3 linked regions of the Homo sapiens genome follow. The protein of the gene in region 3 purifies or fractionates together with the protein of the main gene of each other region. This does not show direct contact. Each region holds a gene or a part of one and is shown on either strand. Other genes may lie near its edges.

Evidence for each region.
Region 1: the proteins of RHOBTB3 (region 3) and EGLN1 purify together in Homo sapiens (affinity purification with western blotting; one study listed by BioGRID). This does not show direct contact.
Region 2: the proteins of RHOBTB3 (region 3) and HTR7 purify together in Homo sapiens (affinity purification with western blotting; one study listed by BioGRID). This does not show direct contact.

The regions. Positions count from the first base shown.
Region 1 is NC_000001.11:231,370,276-231,373,930, reverse strand, and holds part of EGLN1 (egl nine homolog 1), read left to right. Parts: intron 1-3,232; coding exon 3,233-3,369; intron 3,370-3,655. UniProt on the Homo sapiens protein: Cellular oxygen sensor that catalyzes, under normoxic conditions, the post-translational formation of 4-hydroxyproline in hypoxia-inducible factor (HIF) alpha proteins.
Region 2 is NC_000010.11:90,746,528-90,750,182, forward strand, and holds part of HTR7 (5-hydroxytryptamine receptor 7), read right to left. Parts: intron 3,068-3,655; coding exon 2,312-3,067; coding exon of another isoform or gene 2,308-2,311; exon of another isoform or gene 2,307-2,307; intron 1-2,306. UniProt on the Homo sapiens protein: G-protein coupled receptor for 5-hydroxytryptamine (serotonin), a biogenic hormone that functions as a neurotransmitter, a hormone and a mitogen.
Region 3 is NC_000005.10:95,786,769-95,790,423, forward strand, and holds part of RHOBTB3 (rho-related BTB domain-containing protein 3), read left to right. Parts: intron 1-1,993; coding exon 1,994-2,090; intron 2,091-3,655. UniProt on the Homo sapiens protein: Rab9-regulated ATPase required for endosome to Golgi transport. Involved in transport vesicle docking at the Golgi complex, possibly by participating in release M6PRBP1/TIP47 from vesicles to permit their efficient docking and fusion at the Golgi.

The sequences.
Region 1 (3,655 bases), on a different chromosome or scaffold from region 3:
TCAAAAGCATTAAGTTTCATACTTCTGATAAGACTGTCACAGACACAGTTAAAAATTTTCCTCTTAAATTTGTTTCAGTCTCAGGTATTAGGAGTGGATTTTTGTAAAATGAAACAAATACTACTCTATGTTATACAACATGATACCTGTAGTTAACAACGTAGTGTTGTGCACTTAAAAATTTAAGAGGGTAGACTCCATGTTCAGTGTTCTAAACACACACACATACACACACACACACACACACACACACGCACACACGAGGTTAGGGGAAGGGAAACGGAACTTTGAGAGGTGATGGATATGTTTATTACCTTGGTTGTGGTGTGTCATGAGGGTGTGCGTATATATCCAAACTCATCAAATTGTAAATGTTAAAGATATGCATTTTTGTATATCAGTTATACCTCAAAACCATATAAAAAAGTACTGATATATCTTAAAAAGTGGATTCATTTATTTTCAGATGTTAGAGCACTTATCTAAAATCTAACTTTTTTAGAAAGGTGACCTTTATTAAAATATTTTCCTTTTAATAGTTTTTAGAAAAACATTTCTGAGAACAGTTGTTTTATAATGGCTTTTGGGGGAGATTATCTATGGATAATTGTTAAGGATTATTTGCTATGTTATTCTTGGCATTTTTGTAAAAATATTATATGGCATTGAGTTGTTTAATTGAATATTGGAGGCAGGATTCAGTCTTTCCCTGATTATTAAAAAACTGGAAGTTTATCAGTACTGACAAGCCCTGTAAAACCAATTAGAATGTACAATATATTTAATCTCTCTTGTTTTAAATATATATTTCCTTAATATTAGCCTGAGTCTCATTAAATTTAAATGATTTTTAAAAAATATGTCATATATTACTACACTAGAGACTGTACAGACTAATTTTTTGGTTGATTTTTTAAAATCTTAAGTATAACATTCAAATAGAAAAGTGGCTTGTATAGTTCAGTGGATTTTCACAAAGTGAACATACCTGTGTAGCCAGGGTGCCTTTTTTTGTTGTTTTTAAGTCAAATAACCTTTAAAAAACCTCTTTCTCTGCATCCCCCAAAACACACAAATGGAAACTGCCTGAGTCTTAAATGTGCAAAAACCTAATCCTGCCCTAAAAAGTGTTTTAAGTTTAGAATATGCTCACAGTGCTTCACTAATCTTTCTAAAACACACTGATTTAAAGAGTTTTCTCTGCCCTAGTCCAGGTTCAAAATGGAGCTGACCTTTCTGCTGAGTATATATTGAGGCATGTCAACAAGCATGGTTTTTCTGTTACAGCTTTCAAAGTTTGAAGTAGAGAAATAAATTTTGTAATTGAATTTGAGCCCAAGGCACAAAACAGATGGGTGTAACTTTAGTTAAAATTTAAAAATTGACTTTTTTTCAGATTTTGTGAATAGCTAGAAAGCTAGAACTGTGTTTCATCAGCTTCTAACTTCTAGATTTTGTTAGGCTTTTTCTAGGCTGATCTTATAATTTCTATAATACTTAGTCAGGGTCATTAATGTGTAGGTTTTAAATTAGGACATAGGCAGAGAAACGTCCCTAGTGTTTTTGTGTGTAGAATAGAAATTTTCCATGCTAGATTGCACTGAATATGTAGTGTGTCAGTTGTTCTGGATGCTAGGGATGTAGCAGAAACGGAATTAGCCCTGGCAGAGCTTAGGATCTATTGGAGGATACAGATCAGAAAGATTGACAGTTACAGATAGTTATGCAAAGTGTCAAGACAGATTGCTATGGAGCACACAGGAGGGCCACCTAATTCAGAGGAGGAAGAGTGGAAGTGTCAAGTAGCCATTTCACTTAAAACATTTTCAGCAGGTCACCTGTGGTACTCCCAATGACTTGAGTCAAAGGGAAGGGAGCAGGAAAAAAGGAAAGAAGACATGTTCTCAGTTTGGAGGTTCTTTAGATGTTTGCATAGTAGCCTGGGGAATCACTCTGAACAACACTGGAACCTGAGGAAGGTTGGCAAGGGTATCAAAGTAGCTAGAATTTAACTTACCTGACAGTGAGCCTGATAAACCTTTTCTTTAACTATAGATTCTAGGTTTAGGCTCAAACGCCATGTTGTCCTGACCAGGTGTTAGAGTTTCTTTAAATTTTAAGAGTCTACCTGCTTAGGAGTGTAGTTATTCAAGAGTAAGGAGCTACTTGGTTGGTTGGGTTTTGCCTATCCCCAGATCGTAAACCCCGCAAGGACAAAGTCTGTCTGCATTATTCCCTACTCTGCACCCAGAGCCCACCACAGTTCCCAGTGCGATTTGATGCCTAGTTGGTGTTTAGGTAAATAATAATCCTTTATGGGTAGAATCAAGTTTCACAAGCAGGTAGTCATCTGTGCATCAGGCCCAGTCTGGAAAGGGAGAGCCACAGGTTCTAATGAACTATATGCTGATGGTGATGGTGACGACGACAATAATGATGGTCATAATAAATGATGACACTTTCTACTGATATACTGAATTATTTAAGTAAGAGGTATTTGTGACTATCCTATTGTTTATTGAATTTTAAAGTATGGTAAACTATTTGACATAATTTATTTCTAATAATAATTTTGTCAAAATTTCTTGAAATCTATCTATTTGAAGGGTGGGTTAAGCAAATCATTAACATACAAAAATAAACGTTTAGTAGTTTTAAAAGCTTTCAAGCATCATTTTAAGACTTTTAAATTCAGATAACATTCTTGTGTTTCATCAGATATTTATAAAAATCCCTAAAATGGCTGGGGACAGTGGCTCACACCTGTAATACCAGCACTTTGGGAGGCCGAGGTGGGCAGATCACCTGAGGTCAGGAGTTCGAGTCCAGCCTGGCCAACATGGTGAAAACCCATCTCTACTAAAAATGCAAAAATTAGCTGGACATGGTGGCGCATGCCTGTAATCCCAGCTACTCGCGATGCTGAGACAGGAGAATTGCTTGAACCTAGGAGGCGGAGGTTGCAGTGAGCTGAGATTGTGCCACTGCACTCCAGCCTGGGTGACAGCGAGACTCCATCTCAATAAATAAATAAATATCCCTAAAATAAGAACTAAATTTGTCCTTGCATCAGTGCATATACTTTTAAAATTGCAGCTCATCTTCATACTTTATTGAGACGTATTTGTGAATAATCCAATTAAGACATTGAAATTGTCTCTTTTTTTCCCCCTAAATTTAATCTTGTAGCATTTTTGGTTACTCCTGCTTACATATTTGGCTCTTTTCCTAGGTAAGTGGAGGTATACTTCGAATTTTTCCAGAAGGCAAAGCCCAGTTTGCTGACATTGAACCCAAATTTGATAGACTGCTGTTTTTCTGGTCTGACCGTCGCAACCCTCATGAAGTACAACCAGCATATGCTACAAGGTAGTATTCCTTTTCAGAAAAAATTGGTTTAGAGTATGGTAGGACAGGAGGGAATCTGTAGAGTAAACGTGAAAGCTTTCTAATGAGTATTTTCCTGCCAGGTACTTTTCACAGTCATTTTAATTTGAATAATTGTATAAGATTTATGTTGCACAGTCATCTGAATTCAAATAATTATATAAGACTCATTAACAGTTAGTACTAAATGTGTCTTTCTTTGCACAGCCACTCTGAAGAAAGGGAAGCACAGGCCTTCCCATCTTTCTAGCACTCTCTCCGTGCTTTG
Region 2 (3,655 bases), on a different chromosome or scaffold from region 3:
CCCATGTTACTCCTGAGAACTAAAACCAACACGCTTTCCTTTTCCTGTGCTAAAAAATGCTGCAGCCAGGCAAAATAACCTAGCTATTTGTTCTAGGAAATAGTCACTTTCAGAAGACTATATGCCAACAAAAATAGCCTACTTATCAAGACTAGTTTGCTCATTAACACTCACTTCACAGCCCTCATCTAGCTGTACTTACCAGTCTAAAGCTATTATGTCATAAACTCTGCCTAATCCTCACCAGTTCCCTACCTTCAAATCACCCAGCCCAAGCCCCAAAACCCTATCAATATCCTTGCCTTATTTCCTTCATCTGAGAAACTACTAAGACTGTCTAGGAGTGGATACCACTCGTAGTGCAGTAAGTCTAATAAACTTTACTTACTTAGAGTAACAATTCATTCTCATTGTCTTCTTAGAGAGCTTATGGCTAGTCTCCAGCTCAAAAATATTCTGAGACTCTTCACTGCCTATATACTGAAGTCACTTGACAAGTATAACTGCATAACATTCAATACAAGCATCGGGGTGATTCATATCACAGCTACCACTTAGGGACTGTGTGAACATAGGTCAGTTACTTTTGTTCCTGAGCCTTAAGTTGTTCTTCTGAAAAGTGGGGATGCTAGAAGCACCTATTTTGCAGGTAGCATGCTGCATAGCATGTAGCGGGTGTTCAATAATGGTTAGCAGTTATTACTTTTATTTATCATCTATTATGTGTCAAGCACTGTACTAGATTCTGCAGAAAGAAATCTGATTAAGACATTGTTCCTTCTCTGAAGGAATTCAAAATCCTAATGGTCAGTTCAACGAACTCTTATAGGCATAGTAAGATCTCTGGGTTTGCTTACAGTACATGTTCTAGAACTTAAAATTACATTTTTTAATGCTACTTTTTATATTGTGAACAATCTCGTGTACAAAAGAGTATATAGAAGTAAACATGAATGCCTGTGAAGCTACACTCAGCTTAAGAATTAGCATAGCTGTAGTCTTCCAACTTTCAGTTGTAAGATAAAGGCAGTCCAGTATAAGAAAAATGAGTAGCACTGGGATTCAGATGATGTGGAATCTAGACTTAGTTGTGACACTAGCTAAGTGTGAGACATCTCACTTTTCAACTCCCAGTTAGCTCTTCTGTTGAAAGACAGGGGTGGACAAGATGACCAGGAAGGTCCCTCTCTGCTAGAGTGGTCCCTGGTTCTCTAGTCTACTCCTCCCTGCCAGGCTCAGTGAAGAACGACACCTCCAACACTAATCTGCTCATTCTCTCACCAGAACCTTCCAATTTTTCATTCCAAGTTTATTTTTCCCCTGACTTTCAAACGTGAAGAAATCTCCTCTACCTCACATTTAAAACAAAGTCTTCATCAGACATGTTGACACCTCTAACTAGTATACTATCTCTTTCCTTCTTTACAATGCCAAATTTTTAACATGTGGGTCACTTCTGAAATTTCCATTTCTCTATCACCATCAGATCCTTTTTCAGATCCCAAGAACCTATTGTAATTGCTTCCTTGAAAGTCACTAAGACTTCTTAGACCAATTCTTGGTTCTCACCTGCCAAGATGGGCAGGAACATTTCCTAAAAGCTCCTGTGGCTCTTTTTCTTTTATTTTTTAGAGGCGAGTCTTGCTCTGTCAACCAGGTTGGAGTGGCATGATCATAGCTCACTGCATAATCCAACCCCTGGGCTCAAGCTATCCTCCTGCCTCAGCCTCCCAAGTGGCTAGGATTACAGAGGCGCTCCACCATGTCCGGCTCTTGTAGCTTTTAAGACCTTGCCTCATCCTGGCATCTCCCCACACTAACAACTCTTCTTTTTCCTGGGCTGCCTCCTTTCAGCCCAGGTGAATGTAACTGCATACTAAAAAGATCATTGTGCCTCCTACCTCAAAAGAAGAATTTATCTGTGAAGGATGAGGTTATCAAAAAAGCTTTACTGGACAGAAGAATAATAACAACTAAAATAATAATGTTACACAAATTCAGATGTAAGGATATCATTTGGATGTCATTTATGGAGAAAGAAGGGAAAATATCACCTGCCTTGTTGTCAATCACATCAATTGCAATTCATCAGCAAATTAGTCTCATCTACCAATCCAACTAAGTACCTATTTTTGGCTTTTGGAATTTTACTGGGTGGAAGACTGGAGTCTATACTGTTGTCAATTCAAATCTGGTATGTTTAGTAAAAACTAAGCTAGCTACTCGTTCAGGAAGCTTTCTGTGATGTGCCTCAAAAAGCTGCATAAAAGGGTTTGGGGGATAAAAGGAAAATAGTGATAAATGACCTTACAGCACAAACTCAGGTCTCTCTGGCCTCTCAGCAAGCTTCAGGGCTTCATGCATGCCTGCAGCTGAGAGCTTCCGGTTGATATTCCGGTACTGGCACTGGAGCAGGCTGCGATAGGTGGTCCTCAGGTCCCGGTTGAAGAAGGCATATATAAAAGGGTTAATGAGAGAGTTTGCATAGCCTAGCCACAGAAATGTCCTCTCCACCCACAGTGGGATGCAGCTGCAGGAAGTGCCACAGATGAAGGGTCTGGCTGTCGAGAGGAGGAAAAATGGCAGCCAGCACACGGTAAAGGCCCCGACGATGATCCCCAGGGTGGTGGCTGCTTTCTGTTCTCGCTTAAAGATGGAGATGTTTTTCCTTTCATGCTTGAGGAGTCTCGAAAGGTTTGCACACTCTTCCACCTCCTTCTGGAGCTTCACTATGCCATTCAGGGCGATGACGCTGTCTGGCTCCACTCGAGGGAAGCCAGGAAACTTGTGTTTGGCAGCACTCTTCCTGGCAGCCTTGTAAATCTGGTAGTACATGAAAAGCATGACGGACATGGGGATATAAAATGCCACTGCGGTAGAGTAAATCGTATAGCCAAAGTCCTGGCTGATCAAGCACACCTTATCATCATTTACATTCTGAGCCCATCCAAAGAGTGGAGGTAAGGTGATGGAGGCGGAGAGAAGCCAGACGGAGAGAATCATCTTCGCCATGCATTTCCCATTCTGCCTCACAGGGTATGTGAGGGGCCTTGTGATCCCAAGGTACCTAGTGGAGAGATGGAAAGATAACAGATGAACACCGTGATCATAACTGGTCAACCAAGCAAGTCCTGCCAGCCAGGTACCAGCGCCAGTCCTCGCAACAGCCCTTCTAGGTAGGCATCATTACTCCCATTTTGCAGAAAGGTAAACTAAGGCTCTGAGATGTTACCTATTTTATTCCGGGTCACACAGAGGCATTGCCAGATTGTAGCCTGAGAGCCCTCTGACTCTAAAGTCAGTCCATGCTTTGTGCATGCCTTATAGTTTTTCACAATCCACGAAGTCAACAAAGTTTAAAAAGCTCTCCGTCCCCATGACCACAGCCACCAAAATCAACCAGGACAACATATCAACTCTGATGTAGGATGTTGTGACACATTCTCAAAACTTAACCAAGGTCTACCACACTCTGGTATTATACACCCAGTGATCACCCCAGCTGTCTTAATTTAGGCCAGCTTTTAATTCATTTTAGCTTTCCCTTTGCATTACAGCAAAAGCATTTCTTTAAGATCACACAGATTCGTGAGATAATTTGGGAATCCTAGAGTGTTGAAATGGTTAGCAAAAAATGATCATTATTATTATCATT
Region 3 (3,655 bases):
TGGTTTTTTAATGCCTTTTTAAAAATTCTGTTGCTTATTTCAGTTTGAACCCATTTTCTTACGTCAACACATATCCTTCTAAAACCTAGTTTTTACAGTGAGACATGTTCCATTCCTGTTACAGAGTCCCTAGACTATGAATCTGGGCCAGGTCTGTACATTAGCTAGAACTGCTCTGTTGAAATCTACTTCCCAAACCCCCACATGTGCTACCAATTCCTCATTCCTCAGTTCTTTCATTCCTGGAAGCGGAAAGCTTATTCAGATGTGTCATCCTACTGTATTTAAGATATTTTGGATAATATCTTAAATCTTGGTCAAAAATAAAATTCTTCATTTTTAAGCATGCTTTGTAGCCAGCTGTTTATTTCTGTGACCTCCCTTTTCCTTCTCAGTCACAGCCCTTAAGGCAATGTCCTAACCTCCTGGTGTTTTGTTATCTGCTCTGGGTTAATCACGTAACAGTAGTGGTGGCTTCTCTAAAAAGCTGAAGGTTCTTATTCTTTTCCCTTGAGATTGCACACATTCATCTGCTAAAAGATAAGGGGAGGAAAAAAACTGTTAAAATGTTATGTGGGATTAGATAAACTATAAATTTATTTCCAGTTCAAAAATTGATTTTATATAATGAATATAAGAGGGACCTGTGAATTTGTGTTTAAATACTCTCACACTATACAGCTTTAAAAAAAAAAAAAAGCATATCCTTGAGTTTTTTTATTAAGGTTTAGAGATTACTAATCTTTCTTCAATTTAGCATTACTTGTTGCTTATTTAATATTTTTGCATCTCCTTAGAAGAGCTATACTTAGCCAAAAGGTGGAAACAACACAAATGTCCATTGACAGGTGAAGAGATAAACAAAATGTGGTATATATGTACAATGGGATATTATTCAGCCTTAAGAAGGAGTGAAATTTTGATATCTGCTACAACATGGATGAAACTTGGAAAATATTACCCTAAATGAGCCAAACATAAAAGGACAAATATTTTAGAATTTCACTTATATGAGGTACCTAGAATAGTGAAATTCATAGAGACAGAAAGTAAAACAGTGGGTGCTAGGATCTGATAGGGATAGGGAGAAAACAGATTGTTTAATGGTACAGAGTTTCAGTTTGGGGTGATAGAAAAGGCCTGGAAATGGATAGTGGTGTTGGGTTGCCCCACCATGTGTATGCACTTATTAGTGACATTTAACTGTACACTTAAGGATTGTTAAAATGGTAAATTTTATGTTACACATATTGTACCACAATAATAATAATAAAAAAAAGAGTTCTATACTCATGTGCCAAAGTTGCCTGCCAGCAAGTTACTGTCATCTGCATTGGTGGTTGGATGGATCAGTGAGTGTCACTGGATGGGCACCAAGGTGATGATGTCAGTGGCCTGCTTGCTTGGAGTTTTCCCTCCATTAGCAGCTATTGGAACTCAGAATGAGGAGAATGGAGCTGGAAATCCTGCTCAGTTTACTGTACATCTCATTAAAAGCAAATATTTAGCCACAGCTTTCTCTTAGAAACATTTACACATTGAAACCCATGCCTTCGGCCGATGGTGTTTCCTCCTCAAAATATTTTTTGGCTTGCTCCTCAGGTGAACTTGTTTTAACATTGCTCACCATCATCTACTACACAGATACAGGTGCAGTTATTGAAGTCCGTGGCTTCAGATTAAAAGCTCAAATTAAATCTTCAAGAACCTCAGATGCAGCCATGCATTGCTTAAAGACGTTTGGCCACTCCGGCAGCCGTAGATTGTTATTCGCTGTTGGCCTGGCTTCTTCCGAGAATGTACTTTTAACGTTATTTGCTAATAGTGCTCCCTCATCCTGTCTGCTGTCACAGTATACTGAAAGCTGCATCAGGTAAAGGCACATTAAACATGAATATGGGCTCTCCGTGATTGCTCCCAGGCCGTTCTCTTGATCTTATCATACCAGTGGCCATTATGTGCAATATTATTTCACTTTTCATTTTTCTTGCAGTTTCACCACTCTGATTGCCTTTCAACCTGGCTACTTCATTTCATTGCTACTAACTACCTCATCTTCAGTCAAAAGCCTGAATTTCAGGATCTTTCAGGTAGATTGCTAATTTCTGTTTTGAAAAGAAAACTTTATGTTCTTTGTTCTTAGATTTGAGACATAAGTTGTAGAAGTAGTACTTTTAGCAAAATAAGAATAGTCAATGTAATAAATTTCTTGTAAATTATGCAGTGTGGTAATTGAGGAAACAATTTATAGTCACCTGTGTTACATAAGTGCCTTAACCTGTGTTACACAAGAAGTTTTCTAATGATTATTTTATAGCTCCATCCGTTTTTAAATGCATTTTCTTTCCCTGAAATAGATAAGGTGACAAAATGTGTCCTCAGGTGACATTTGGTTGTGAAAAGTGATATCTTAGTTCTAACTACCTAAGTCAGCAGCAAAGTTTAAACAGTACAGATTTAAAAATTTTTTATAAAGGAATTTAACTCTTGTTAACTATATTATATTTAGCTTTATTGTACTGGATATCTGTATTTACTGAGTATACCTATATGGGAGTCCCTTATATTACTTTGGAATAACAGTTTTTCATATATAAAAAATGTTGTGAAACTTACTGGGAGTGTATGTAATATGCTTTCTAAGGTAAATTATAAAAATTAAAACCAAAGTGTGAACTACTGAGTACTGCATAAAAAGAAAAAAATGAAAATATAATAGTTGTCAGAATAGACAGTTTAGATGCAGTGGTTTGCTCATGTTATTATCTAGCATAGACTCAAGGAAAATTTGAGCTAAAAAGAAAAGGAAGTGAAAGATTACCTGATCAAGGAGTTTCACAATCTGGACAAATAAATCTCCGTGGAGATAACTGAAGTGTCTTCTAGGGTGGGGGACAGAAAGTAGGGAGTGGGTGAGGAGAAGGAGAGAGAGAGGGAGTAAGGGAAAGGGAAAGAGAAGGCTAAAATTTACAGTTCTTGGACTCTTCCCTCCCTCCTTCAGTCATAGTAGTTCCACTTTATCTGTTTCATATCTTGAGTTCTACCTAAAATTTTACTTCGTAAAAAAGACTCTGCTGGTAAAAGATATAAAAATCATATGGTCAAGATGGTGATTCCACCTCGGTGTAATCCCAGCCAACTTGGGAGGCTGAGGCTGAAGGATCACTTGAACCCAGGAGTTTGAGTCCAGCCTGAGCAACATAACGAGACTTCTGTCTCTAAAAGAAAAAAGAGTAAAAATCTCTTGTTTTTATTCAGCTACTTGTGCAGTTAAAGAAAACCCAGGAACACACAATCCGTTTTTGGGAGATGTATTCAGCCAGTCAACAAACATTATATGTCTATTAGGAGCCTCCTTATATAAGTCAACTATTAGTACAGTAGAGAAGCATAATCACATCAAAACAAAACAACAGTTATTTATTAGCTATGTACTTTGTGCAAGGAAAAAACAGTCAGTTCATAAAGATAAGGCTTGTGTATGCTTGCTGTCAGAAGGAACATTCTTCTATAGTTATTTAAGTAGCTGCTTCTATAGTTATTTAAGAAGCTTGCTAAAAGTTAAATGAATTGCACTTTGGTCCTGGAGCCAGTTTCATTATGTTACCTGAGGTCACTCTTATTTGTAAGAGAAGAATAAGATTATTTTCTACTT